2 separate regions of the Homo sapiens genome follow, and region 1 is linked to region 2. Evidence: fine-mapped expression QTL. Tissue or cell type: whole blood. Region 2 holds a variant in brackets; the other region holds the start of a gene. All regions are shown on one strand. Distances are from middle to middle.

The links. PIP is the estimated chance that this variant, and not a neighbour inherited with it, causes the effect.
Region 1: it holds the start of SRXN1, and the variant in region 2 is fine-mapped to the expression of SRXN1 in whole blood (INTERVAL, PIP 0.95).

Annotation. Positions count from the first base shown.
Region 1 is chr20:650,283-656,173 of GRCh38, forward strand. It overlaps SRXN1 (sulfiredoxin 1), which reads right to left and starts at 2,918. Exons shown (of 2, transcript NM_080725.3): 1 at 2,694-2,918. The coding sequence starts at 2,903. LOC107985423 (a long non-coding RNA gene) reads left to right here and starts at 2,671. Exons shown (of 2, transcript XR_001754452.2): 1 at 2,671-3,192; 2 at 3,507-5,891. RefSeq lists a silencer at 2,796-3,355.
Region 2 is chr20:596,804-602,694 of GRCh38, forward strand. No RefSeq gene overlaps it. Among named protein-coding and RNA genes, the nearest start is that of TCF15, 11 kb to the right of the region's middle. The variant CCTGA/C (reference allele first, on the strand shown) is at 3,026.

The DNA of each region.
Region 1 (5,891 bases), 53 kb after region 2:
CAGAAGATGCTGGTCTGGATGATGGTGTGGTGGGGACAGGGAGAGGTAGACAGGTTTGGGACACATTTACGGGGCAGGCCCAAGGGGTCTGGCAGAAGGGGTGAATCCAAGGGCAAGAGAAAAGGGAGAATCTAAGTTGACTTCCTGTTAGGGGCCCACACAGCCAGGTGGAGAGTAGGTCATCCTCTAAACAGGGAAAGTCTGGGGCAGGACGGGTGCAGGGTAGAGCACTCTGGGGAGACCCCATTAAGTGTGAGCGGCGTGGAAGGCCTCCTGCTGCTGGTCCACGGGTTCTCTCTCATGATTCCACAAATGATTATTCAGCAGTAAGGTGCAGCAGTCACAAGCCTGAGCTCTGGAACCTGGCACACCTGACTTTGGATCTCAGCTCCTCTCCACAGCAGCTGGGGCACACAGCCCTCTGAACACCATTCCTCACCTGTAAACTGGGAATAAAACATCCTAGAGGGCTGCTGATGAAGAGTCAGTGAGCTGATGCCTACCGGGCATTAGTGGAGCACTAAGGAGGGCAGCCGTGCCAGGCAGGCCTTGTGCCGGGTACTGGAGGCACGATGGTGGATGGCCAGAATGATGGCTCCCAAAGATGTCCACGCCCGAATGCTTCTGAATGTGTTACCTTACATGGGAGAAGGGACTTGGCAGACAGAATTAAGGTAAGGATCCTGAGATGCGGAAATTATCCAAGGTTATCTAGATGGGTCGAATGCCATTATCAGGGTCCTTAAAACTGGAAGAGGAAGTAGAGGAAGAGGTCAGAGTGATGCGATGTGAGAAGGCCTTGGCCTGATGTTGCTGGCTTTGAAGACAGAGGAAGAGGCCATAAGCCAAGCAGTGTGGGTGGCGTCTGGAAGCTGGGAAAGGCGAGGAAATGGATTCTCCCCTAGAGCCTACAGAAAGTAGTGCAGCCCTGCTTGGTGTTAGCCCAGTAAGACCCATTTTGGACTTCTGACCATAAATAAACCTGTGTTGTTTTAAGCCATCAACTTTGTGGTAACTTACAGTGGCCCCAGAAAACTAATACAGGTGTATGTAAGCAAAGGCAGAGCTGGTTCTGGCCCTCAGAGCCTACGGTTCTAGCACGGAAGGCAGGTGTCTAGACAGGACGTTAAAAGCCAGTGGGCTGTAATCCCAGCACTTTGGGAGGCCGAGGTGGGCAGATCGCTTGAGGTCTGGAGTTTCAGACCAGCCTGGCCAACAGGGTGAAACCCCATCTCTACTAAAAATACAAAAATTAGCCAGGCGTGGTGGTGGGCGCCTGTAATCCCAGCTACTTGGGAGGCTGAGGCAGGAGAATGGCTTGAACCCGGGAGGCGGAGGTTGCAGTGAGCCAAGATCGTGCCACTGCACTCCAGCCAGGGTGACAGACCCAGACAACGTCTTAAAAAAAAAAAAAAAAAGCCAGTGAGATCAGAGCTATGCAGGTGGGCACACAGGTGGCTGCAGGCCCACAGAAGCTCCTAACCCGGTAGGGATGGTCAGGGAAGATCCTGACACTGAGACAGGAAGACCGAGAAAGAGTGAGAAACGACAAGGCAGAGATAGAAGAGGTTCTCAACGGGAGAAAAAGCCCAGTGGTGGGACAGGGCATGCATGGCAGATCCCTTCCCATCTCAGCCAGGCGCCGTGCTACTATTGTGGCAACAGATAAGATGGGACGAGGTCCTCGCCCTTGTGGAGTGCACGTGAGGTCAGGAAGACAGAAAATAAAATGCAACACAAATAGATGTATAATATAATTTCTGGTGGACATAAGTGGTATCCTGAAAAACATCTCGGGCTAAGGGGAGAGCTAGAGAGGCCAGTGACTCTGACCAAGGGTGATCAAGGAGGCAGAGAGCTGAACCAGGCAGGGGAGCAGGCCCTGTGGTTGTCTGGGGAAGTGGCTCCAGGCAGTGAGGACACTAGTGTAAATACTAGGACTGAAAGTTATCGGGGGTGGCTGTAGAGGTGCTGGGTGGGGCTTAGGGATCTCATGTGCTCACCTTCCAAGGGTCGGGGGAAGGGGACACAACGTTATGTAGGCCTAACCTGACACCTGTTCTTGCGGGGCCCCCAAGTTCCTGCCAGAATCACTCCGGTATTCTTAACACCCTTCCTCAGTGGTGGAGCTGACCCTTGACCTCTCCCACTTCCCATTCAGACAAGGGCCTCCCAGCAGATATGACACACCTAGTCCCACTGTCACTGACTGTCACAGCCATGAGAGCCCACGGCTTATCTCCGGGTAGTGCGGTGGCCATGTGCTGGGCAGTGGGGCCCAGGCTGCCTGGGTGTGAATTCCAGCCGTGTCACTTTTTAAGCGCCTGATCTTAGTCAAGCCGCTGAAATCTTCCCTGCCTCAGTTCTCGTCTGCAAAAGAGCCACTATCTACCTCCTAGGGTTGGCATAGGAAACTGAGGGACTTCCTGCAGTTCCTGGACCACTGCAAGCACTAGCGTTATAAGCGTTATCATCACTACTTTAATTATCTCGCCCAATTCCCTCCTTGCTCAAGTGAGGAAACAGAGGCCCAGAGAGGCCCAGCTACTTGCTCAAGGTCACACAGCAGAGGCTGAGCTCCGGCTGGGCCCGGAACCAGTCCGTCTCGCGTCCATCGCAGCGACCTCCCTCCTCCGGCAACCTCCCTCCTCCGAAGCCCTCCCTCCGGTTGGCTGGACTCCCCGAGGCCTCACCCGGATCGTGTCCACGAGGCTCTGCACCTTGGCGGGGTCCAACACGGACGGCAGCGGCCGGATGAGCACGCTCAGCGGCACGTTGTGCACCGCGGCGATGCGGCCCGAGTGGATGCTGCCGCCCTGCGCGCCGCCGCTCGGCCCGGGCCCCTCGGGCGCCCCCCGACCCGCGCCGGCCCTGCCCAGCGTTCCTCCTGCACGCAGCCCCATCGTCGCCGCCGCCGCGGGACTCGCCGCCTCCCCCCGGCCTTAACTCCGGCCGGGCCATACCATTCCGCGCGGCCGGGGGGGGGGGCCCGTGCCAGGGCAGCGCGCGTTTCTCCCCCGACCCCGCCGCGGTCCGGCCTCGACCCCGCGGTCCCCAGCCCGACTCCGGCTCCGCTCGCCAGGTGCCGCCAGACTCGCGCGGGGCTCAGGCTCTCCACCGGGGGGCGCCTCTCGCCTCCCCTGCGCCGCGCGGCGTCCGGGGAGTGGAAACGCCCGGGCGGGCTGACTCAGGGTGAGTTTGCAGGTCGCGGGGCGGGAGGGGCGCGGGTGACGCACCGGCCGGGCCGACTTAGGCCGCGGGGGCGGGGGCGGGGGAGAGCGCGGCGGACCTGCCCAGCCAGGGTGAGTCGGCAAAGCCCGCGGTGCGCTGCTGCCCCGCTGCTGGGGTTCCTAGCCAGCGAGGTTATGATCCCCACCAGCGGTTCCACTTCCAGTCTGGCGCCGGCTGTGTCTGGAGTCGTTCCGAACATTTTGCACGTGTATTAACGTATCTGAACCTCAAAACAACCCTGCAAGGAAGGTATGACTGTTATTCCCATTTTACAGAAGAGGAGACTGAGACACAGGTTTAAGTGATGTACCCAAGATCACGGAACTAGTAAGTGGCCGAATCCGCGTTCAAATCCAGACGGTCTGGCTCCAGAGTCCGCCTTCTACCCCACCGTTGGCTGCCTTGGTTCAGCAACAGTGACTGTCACACGGAGCCCTCAGGAGTCGCGCTGACAATGGGTGGGCCCTGCCTTCAAGTTCCACACTGTCTGTTTGTGTCATTACAACACTACTGGAAGTAGGTGCAGTTATAGACCCGCTGTTCAAGGTCAGCTGAAATGAAAGTCAGGTCACACGAGTCCAAACTGTGGGGCCACTTAACCACCAACTCCAAGCAGGAAGGTGGACGATCCCAGACTCGGTCGAAGACAAGCATGTCTGGTTTGCTTGTCTTCCTTCTCAACCTGAATGGCACGAACATGGAGAAATGCATACTTACCCTGCCAGCTGGAGAAAACTGGAGACGAAGGAGGGAGCCAGGAGTTTCTACTTTGCCTTCCACCAGTTGCTGACACTTTCTGAACCCCGTCTGTAAAATGAAGTCATGCTGCCCATCACTCAAAGTTGTGTGAATTGAGAGAGTGCTCATAGTGCTCTGTGAATTGCATAACATCCATTTTGCTGTTGAAGATCATTTATTTTGGGTTCTTAGTCTCTCACAAAACCTTAGAACACTGACACCAAGACTCCAGCCTTTCCCTTTCGAAACATAATTCCCGTGCGCACCTAAATGATACTTTATTTCAAGAAGTAGAACTGACACCCACACCTCAGCCCCAGAATTATTCAGAATTAGAGAATTTCATCAAGAGGGAAGTTATCCCTTCTAAAACATCTTCCTCATTACAGGAAGTAAGAATGGCAGGATAACAGTTTCTAGAGTGGAAAAGTGGAGCTCTGGCCTGATTCTATCATCATGGTGTACCCAGGGAGGCCTCATTTCCTGGTATCAAATTCTCTGTGTTAAGATATCTATGGCCCAATTCAAAATGGCTTAAGCAATAAGAAGGTTTGTTTTCTCACATAATAAAATGTTTGGAGGTAGGTATGTCCAAGGTTGGTAAAGAGGCAGTTGAACAATGTGACCAAAGACTCCAGTTCTGGCTGGGCCCGGTGGCTCACACCTGTAATCCCAGCACTTTGGAAGGCTGAGGCAGGCGAATCACTTGAGGCCAGGAGTTCGAGACCAGCCTAGCCAACATAGTGAAACCCTGTCTCTACCAAAAGTACAAAAATTAGGCAGGCATGGTGGCGCGCGCCTGTAGTCCCAGTTACTCCAGAGGCTGAGACAGGAGAATTGCTTGAAACCGAGAGGCAGAGGTTGCAGTGAGCTGAGATCATGCCGTTGCACTACAGCCTGGGTGAGAGAGTGAGACTCTCTCAGAAAAAAAAGACCCTGGTTCTGTCTATCCTTTTGTGCCATCATCCTTGGTGTTCTGTTATCCTGCGGTGTGCCCCTCATGGTCCCAAGATGGCTACTGTAGCTCAAAACATCACATCATTACATGCGAATGTCCACAAGTGGAAGTTAGGACATCCCTTCGAGCCTCTTTTTAAGAGTGAAGAAACCTTCCCTGGCTGGATGCAGTGGCTCACACCTTCTGACCTTCCACTCCTCAAGCCCCGGAGTCAACTCTAGTCACACTGGCCTCCTTGCTGTGCCTCTTCCACAGCGAATGTGTCCTGGCCTCAGACCCTTTACATTTGCTGTTCCCTGTGCATGGAACGCTCTTCCCTCAGGTCATACATAGCATACATTACTGAGTGCTCTCCATGTGCCCAGCATGGTTTGATGCGCTTTACATATATTAACTCATGGAACCTAACAGCTTTATGAGACGAGTCTGTTATCTCCATCCCCATTTGATAGATGGGGCATCCCTGTGGGAGCTCTGCCCATTCCAGAGGTGCCAGGCCATTCACTAATGGGGGCAGGAGCCGGTGAGTAAATGCCAGTCTTGTGCTGTCACAGGTGGACGATTCAGAGAGGTGTTCTAGACCATTCAGATCTTTCTGGAACCTTCTCAGAGACCAGAAGTACTCAGCCCTATTGCTACAACTGACTTCACTAACACACCCTCTGTCCCATTCCTCCCACCCCTTACTTCTGCTTCCAGGGATCACCTCCCACATAAACGACTTACACTCAAGTCTCAGACTTGCTATCAGGGAACCAAAACTAAAACAAAAGGGAAACTTGATACTGGGTCATCCCCTATAGTTCTGTACCTTGCCTGGGTTAAAATTGCACTATTTTATTAGATGTGTGACCTTGGGCCAGTCACCTGTCTGTGCCTGTTTCCTAATCTGTAAAACGGACATAATGTCACCTAATTCACAGGGGTGTTGGAAGAGTGAAGAGAGATGGTGTTAGGTGAGGTC
Region 2 (5,891 bases):
TAGGCACCCACAACGCGCCGGTGCCACCAGGCGCTCGGGATGCTCAGCATTTGGCACAGAGGCAGCAGAGCAGGGAGGTGAAGAGAGTGGGCTCTGGACCCAGCCTCAGTCCACATCCCGGTTCTGTCCTTTGATGGCCGTGTGAGGATAGTGACAGCCTGTCTCACTGGGTCGTAGAGGAGTAAATGAGTTACAGGCCGTGGAACAGTGCCTGGCACTGAGGCGGTGCTAGGTAAGTGTTTGCTTTTATTTTCGACTTCTGTCCAACCAGCCTTCTGTTGCTTTGACAGCTTCATGGGGCTGCTCTGGGCACTCAAAGGAGATATGTTGGGGATTCAGGGGTTGTGTTTAGGGGAGACCCAGGTCCTGCAGGTGCCCCATCATTCATACTGATGCAGGGGTGGCCTGGAAGCTGCAGAACCATTCACACTCGGCAAAGCCTTCTCTCACCTTGGAAGCATCATTCCTAATGACGACACAGGTCTCCCAGCCATGCGTTCCCACATAACTTAGAAGCACCCATCCCATTTTTATTATTTGCTCAGAGCCTGCTTTTTCAGTAGGCCGTAAACTCCATGAGGTCAGGTACTACATCTGGCTTATTCTCTGATCATCCCTAGAGCCTTGTGTGGTTCATGGAGAAGTTCAAAACATGTTTGTTGACGGACTTACTGACTGACAAAGTCTGCCAGCCTTATGTTGGTCTACAATGTTACACTCTATCCCATGCCTCCTGCTGAGTTTTACCCTCCTGCTGTGATGCAGGCTGTGGGATCTGGAGCTAGACCCCCTCAGTTGGAATCCTGGCTGTGCCATTGCCTAGCTGGGTGCCCTTGGGCTTGGTTTTCTAGTCTGTGAAATGGGGATAGCAACAGTACCTACCTATGTGGCTTGTTGCAAGTGAGGCCATCTCTGTATGTCACTCAGAGAAGTGCCTTGGATTAGTCAGTTCCATCAACATCAGGACTAGGCACGCACCTGGTGAGGTCATGTGGGGGTGGTGGTTGAGAGCCCAGTGGGGCTCTGCAGCTAGAACATCTGATTCAAATCCACCAGCCACTGTGTCACCTTGGCCAAGTTCTTTAACCTCCTTGTGCCTCCGTTTCCTCATCTATAAAATGGAGCAATAATAATACATATCTAACCAGCTTTTGAGCAAGCTGTATGTATGTATGTATTTATTTATTTAGAGACGGGGTCTTACTCTATTGCCCAGGCTGGAGTGCAGTGGTGCAATCTCGGCTCACTGCAACCTCCAACTCCTGGGTTGAAGGGATTTTCCTGCCTCGGCCTCCTGAGTAGCTGGGATTACAGGCACGCACCACCATGCCCAGCTAATTTTTGTATTTTTAGCAGAGATGGGGTTTGGCCATGTTGGCCAGGCTGGTCTTGAACTCCTGGCCTCAAGTGATCTGCCCTCCTCCGCCTTCCAAAGCACTGTGATTACAGGCATGAGCCACTGCCCCCCGCGAAGCTGTATTTATTTTATGTAAAGTGCATAGCCTAGGCCTGACACGTAGTAGGTCCTCAAAAGAGTCAGGCATTTTTCCAAGCCATTCAGAAAAAAACAACTCCTAGATTTTATCAGCCTTCCCTCCCACAAGGCCAGTGTGTCCCAGCTGACAAAGTTGCTGGCCGTGCTGACGTGAGGAAAAGCAAGGGCCAGAGAGGGCCAGACGCCTACCCTGGGTCACACAGGAGCAGTGGCCAACCTAGAATAGGCTAGGTCTTCTGTCTCGCAGCCTGTTCATCCTGAGTGCCTCCCTGGTTTCCAGGCCCTGCTGGCCTGCCCTCTGACCCTAGCCCCCTGGGAGCTCTATCCCAGGCCCATGGGGTCTGCAAATCTGGTCTGGATTAGACACGCTGAGAAGCAAACGCCAGCCCCCCCAGCCGGCTGCCCAGTGGGACCTGTGCTCACAGCTGCTGAGGCTCATAGGGACATAAATCATGGTGGCAGGAGACTCGGGGGATGGGACCACCTTAGCCTCCTAAGGGGCACAGGGGCCTGAGAGTCACGAGCAGAGGCACCTGGGTCTGCTGGGGATATTTTCCATCGTCTGTTGGACAAGCTAAAGCCAGGGTGCATCAGAGGGGGCCAGGACACCATTTGGCAGCCCTCGCATCACAGTAGGCCAAGATCCCAACTTCTTTTTAACTTTTCATTTTGCAATCATTTACAACATGCAGAAAAGTGACAAAAGTGGTGCAGAGAACTCCCATATACCCTGTACTCAGATTCACCACATTTTAAGTTTGTCATATTTACTCTATCCTTTTCTCTCACACATATATTATTTCTCTTCTGAACCATTTGAGAGAGCACGTTACCTACATCATACTTCTCCTTAATAGTACTTCAGGATGTATTTTTTTTTTTTTTTTTGAGACGGAGTCTCACTCTGTCACCCAGGCTGGAGTGCAATGGTGCGATCTTGGCTCACTGCAACCTCTGCCTCCCGGGTTCGAGCAGTTCTCCTGCCTCAGCCTCCCGAGTAGCTGGGATTACAGGCGCCTGCCACCACAGGGTTTCACCATGTTGGCCAGGCTGGTCTCGAACTCCTGACCTCAGGTGATGCGCCCACCTCGGCCTCCCAAAGTGCTGGGATTACAAGCTGAGCCACCACGCCCGGCCTAGGATGTAATTCTTAAGCACAAGGATATCCTCTGACACAATCAGGGTGCTGTTAGCAAATACAGAAAATTTAACTTTGATGCAATACCTTAATCTATTGTTCATATCCCAATTTTGTGTGACCATGTCTCAAAAAAAAAAATTGTCAACTCTACCAAGAAGGTCCCCTGTCACATTTTCCCCTCTGCAGTACAGGATCCAGTTCAAAGTCATGTATCGCATTTACCTGTTCAGGTCTATACTTGATATCACAACTACACGAGGTAAAATATACAGTCGTAAGAGACACAGATGGGGTTGAACAAAGACATCCAACTTCATATGTACGTCCCATGAACCAATGTTTCTATAAATCCTCTAATTATATGGTGTTCCACAATAATGCATCACGCT[CCTGA/C]CTGTGTGGAGGTAGTTAAGAGTTAACTTGCCAGGCCAGGCACAGTGGCTCACACCTGTAATCCCAGCACTTTGGGAGGCTGAGGCTGGAGGATTGCTTGAGCCCAGGAATTTGAGACTAGCCTGGGCAACATGGCGAAACCCCCTCAAAATAAAAAATTAGCTGGGCATCATGGTGCACACCTGTAGTCCCAGCTACTCAGGAGGCTGAGGCGCTAGGACTACCTGACTCCAGGAGGTGGAGGCTGCAGTGAGCCATGATCGTGCCACCTGCACTCCAGCCTGGGTGACAGGGTGTAACCGTGTCTCAAAGAAAAAAAAAAGTTAACTTACCAAATATGCCATAGTCTTCAGCACTCTCTTTTTGTAGTGCTTCATTTTTTAACCTAATAAAAGCCTCATAAAATGGGAGTGGCCTGGGACAATGAGGGGAACCTGAAGTGCTGTGGGTGCAAGAGGTCCTGTGTTCTCAGCCCTGCTCAGCTCCAGATGCTGTGCAACCGTGGCCCATCACCGCTCCTCTCTGAGCTTCAGGTTGCCATGGGTGACCTCTGAGGCCTTCCTGCTCATAACTGTGGAGTCAGAGAAAACAGCCCTGCATGGCAAGGAGGGAGATTTGTGTTCTTGGTGTCCCAACAGGGCCAAGGACCTGCTGGGGAACCCCAGGCAGGTTGCCCTCTGTCTTGTCTCACTTTCTTCATTGTGAAATGATGAACTCTGAGATTATTCTTGTGCTGCTGCTTCATGTGTCAAGACTTGCAGGGAGAGTGTAACCCTTTGGGGTCCAAGGTGGCCTGGCTGAGTCGGTCATTCCAACCCCTTCAGTCCTGGATTTCTTCTCCCTGAGCAGCTTTACTCCTGTGGCCTCAAGTTGGCCTGGAGAAGCTTGGCTGGGCTGGACCATCCCGGAGGCGACAGGCATGCTGGGGGAGCGGACAATGTTACAAAATGTTCCCCAGAGGAGCTGCCTATATATGCAGACCACACCTGTGCTTCTCCCCGGTCACGTGTGTGGGCTGACCTTGCAGCTCACAAAGGCTCATGGGCATTAACTGTCCATTACCAGGAAGATAGCAAGCTGCAAAATATGCATAATGGAGCACTATGCAGCTATGAAAAGGTGTGAAACAGCTCTGTAAGCAACCAAGGGTCTCCAAGAAGTACAGTTAAGAAAAAAAAATCCAGTGCAGAGAGGAGTGTGTGAAATGCTACCACTTGTGTGGAAAAACAATATCTATGTAATTTGCCTATATATGCAGACCATCTCTGCCGGAATCCATAGGATCCTGGTTACCTTAACATAGCAATTGCCTCTGGGGACTGGAGCTGGTGGCTGGGAGAGAAGGAGACTTATTGTCAGTTTATTCTTTTTTGTGTCTCATTCAAAGGAAAGAACCGGTATGTGTAGATGTGCAAGAGGGGCTGGCTCCTGGGAAGCTGCTAATTGCATTTCTTGATCTCCATGCTGGGTGTACAGGTGTGCTCAGCTTGTGAAAATCCATTGAGCTGTACCCTTACACCCTGTGCACTTTCCTGAATGTGTCTTATACTTCCATAAAAAGTGTAAACTTGGCCGGGCGCAGTAACTCATGCCTGTAATCCCAGCACTTTGGGAGGCCAACATGGGTGGGTCACCTGAGGTCAGGAGTTCGAGACCAGCCTTGCCAACATGGTGAAACCCCGTCTTTACTAAAAATACAAAAATTAGCCAGGCGTGGTGGTGCACGTCTGTACTCCCAGCTACTCAGGAGGCTGAGGCAGGAGAATCGCTTGAACCCGGGAGGTGGAGGTTGCAGTGAGCCAAGATCACGCCACTGCACTCCAACCTGGGTGACAGAGTGAGATCCATCTTAAAAAAAAAAAAAAAGCGTAAACTTAGCATGGTTTAAATGATTTGTTAAGCGTATGTGTGCTAGTTTAACAAAAACGCTGCAGAGCTGGGCGCAGTGGCTCATGCCTATAATCCCAGCACTTTGGGAGGCTGAGGTGGATCGCTTGAGCCCAGGAGCTGGAGACCAGCCTGCATAACATAGTAAGAACCTGTCTCTACAAAATAAACAAATAAATAAAATTAGCCAGGCCTGGTGGTGTATGCCCGTATTTCCAGCTACTCCGCAGGCTGAGGTGGGAGGATCACTTGAGGACAGGAGGTTAAGCCTGCAGCGAGCTATGACTGTGCCACTGCACTCCAGCCTGGGTGACAGAGTGAGACCCTATCTCAAACAAAACAACAAAAAATACTCGGTGGGATTATCGTCTTCACTGTGGCTGTCTCTGGGATAAGTGATATTTCTAGAGTCTTATAGCATTTTGAATTTGTTTTACAATGAAAGCACAGGCAGAGAAACCTATAAATATTTTTTCAGAAACAGTTATCAGTATAGAAGCTTTTTTGGAAGGACACTCAGGAAGCTGCCTCTGGGGAGGGGCCTGAGGAGGTCTGTACTTTTCACTGCATACCATTTGATACAACTTGGATTACTTACCAGTGCATACAGGGTCTATTAAAAACTATCTCACAAAGCAAAACAAATACTTATCTTTCTGTTCTAGCTGCTCTTACTAGTTAGAGACTGAGCCAGGGAGGCCCAGAGGGGTCAAGCAACATCTCTGGGGTCACCCAGCAAATCTGGTGGCGGAGTGGGCCTCCAGCCAGAGCACCCAAGTGTCTGCTCTGCCCCCACTCCCAGGCTTCCTGCCATTGACAAGGCCACAGTCCTTTTCCTGTGGCTTTGCCAGAGGCTGGCTGTACCTGGGAGGGTAGGCGCAGGGGGAGCAATGTGCTTTCCTAATCAGCTCCCAAAGGGGGAAGCACAGCCACGCTGGGACACAGGATAAGCACGACCAGTGTTCCTGAAACAGC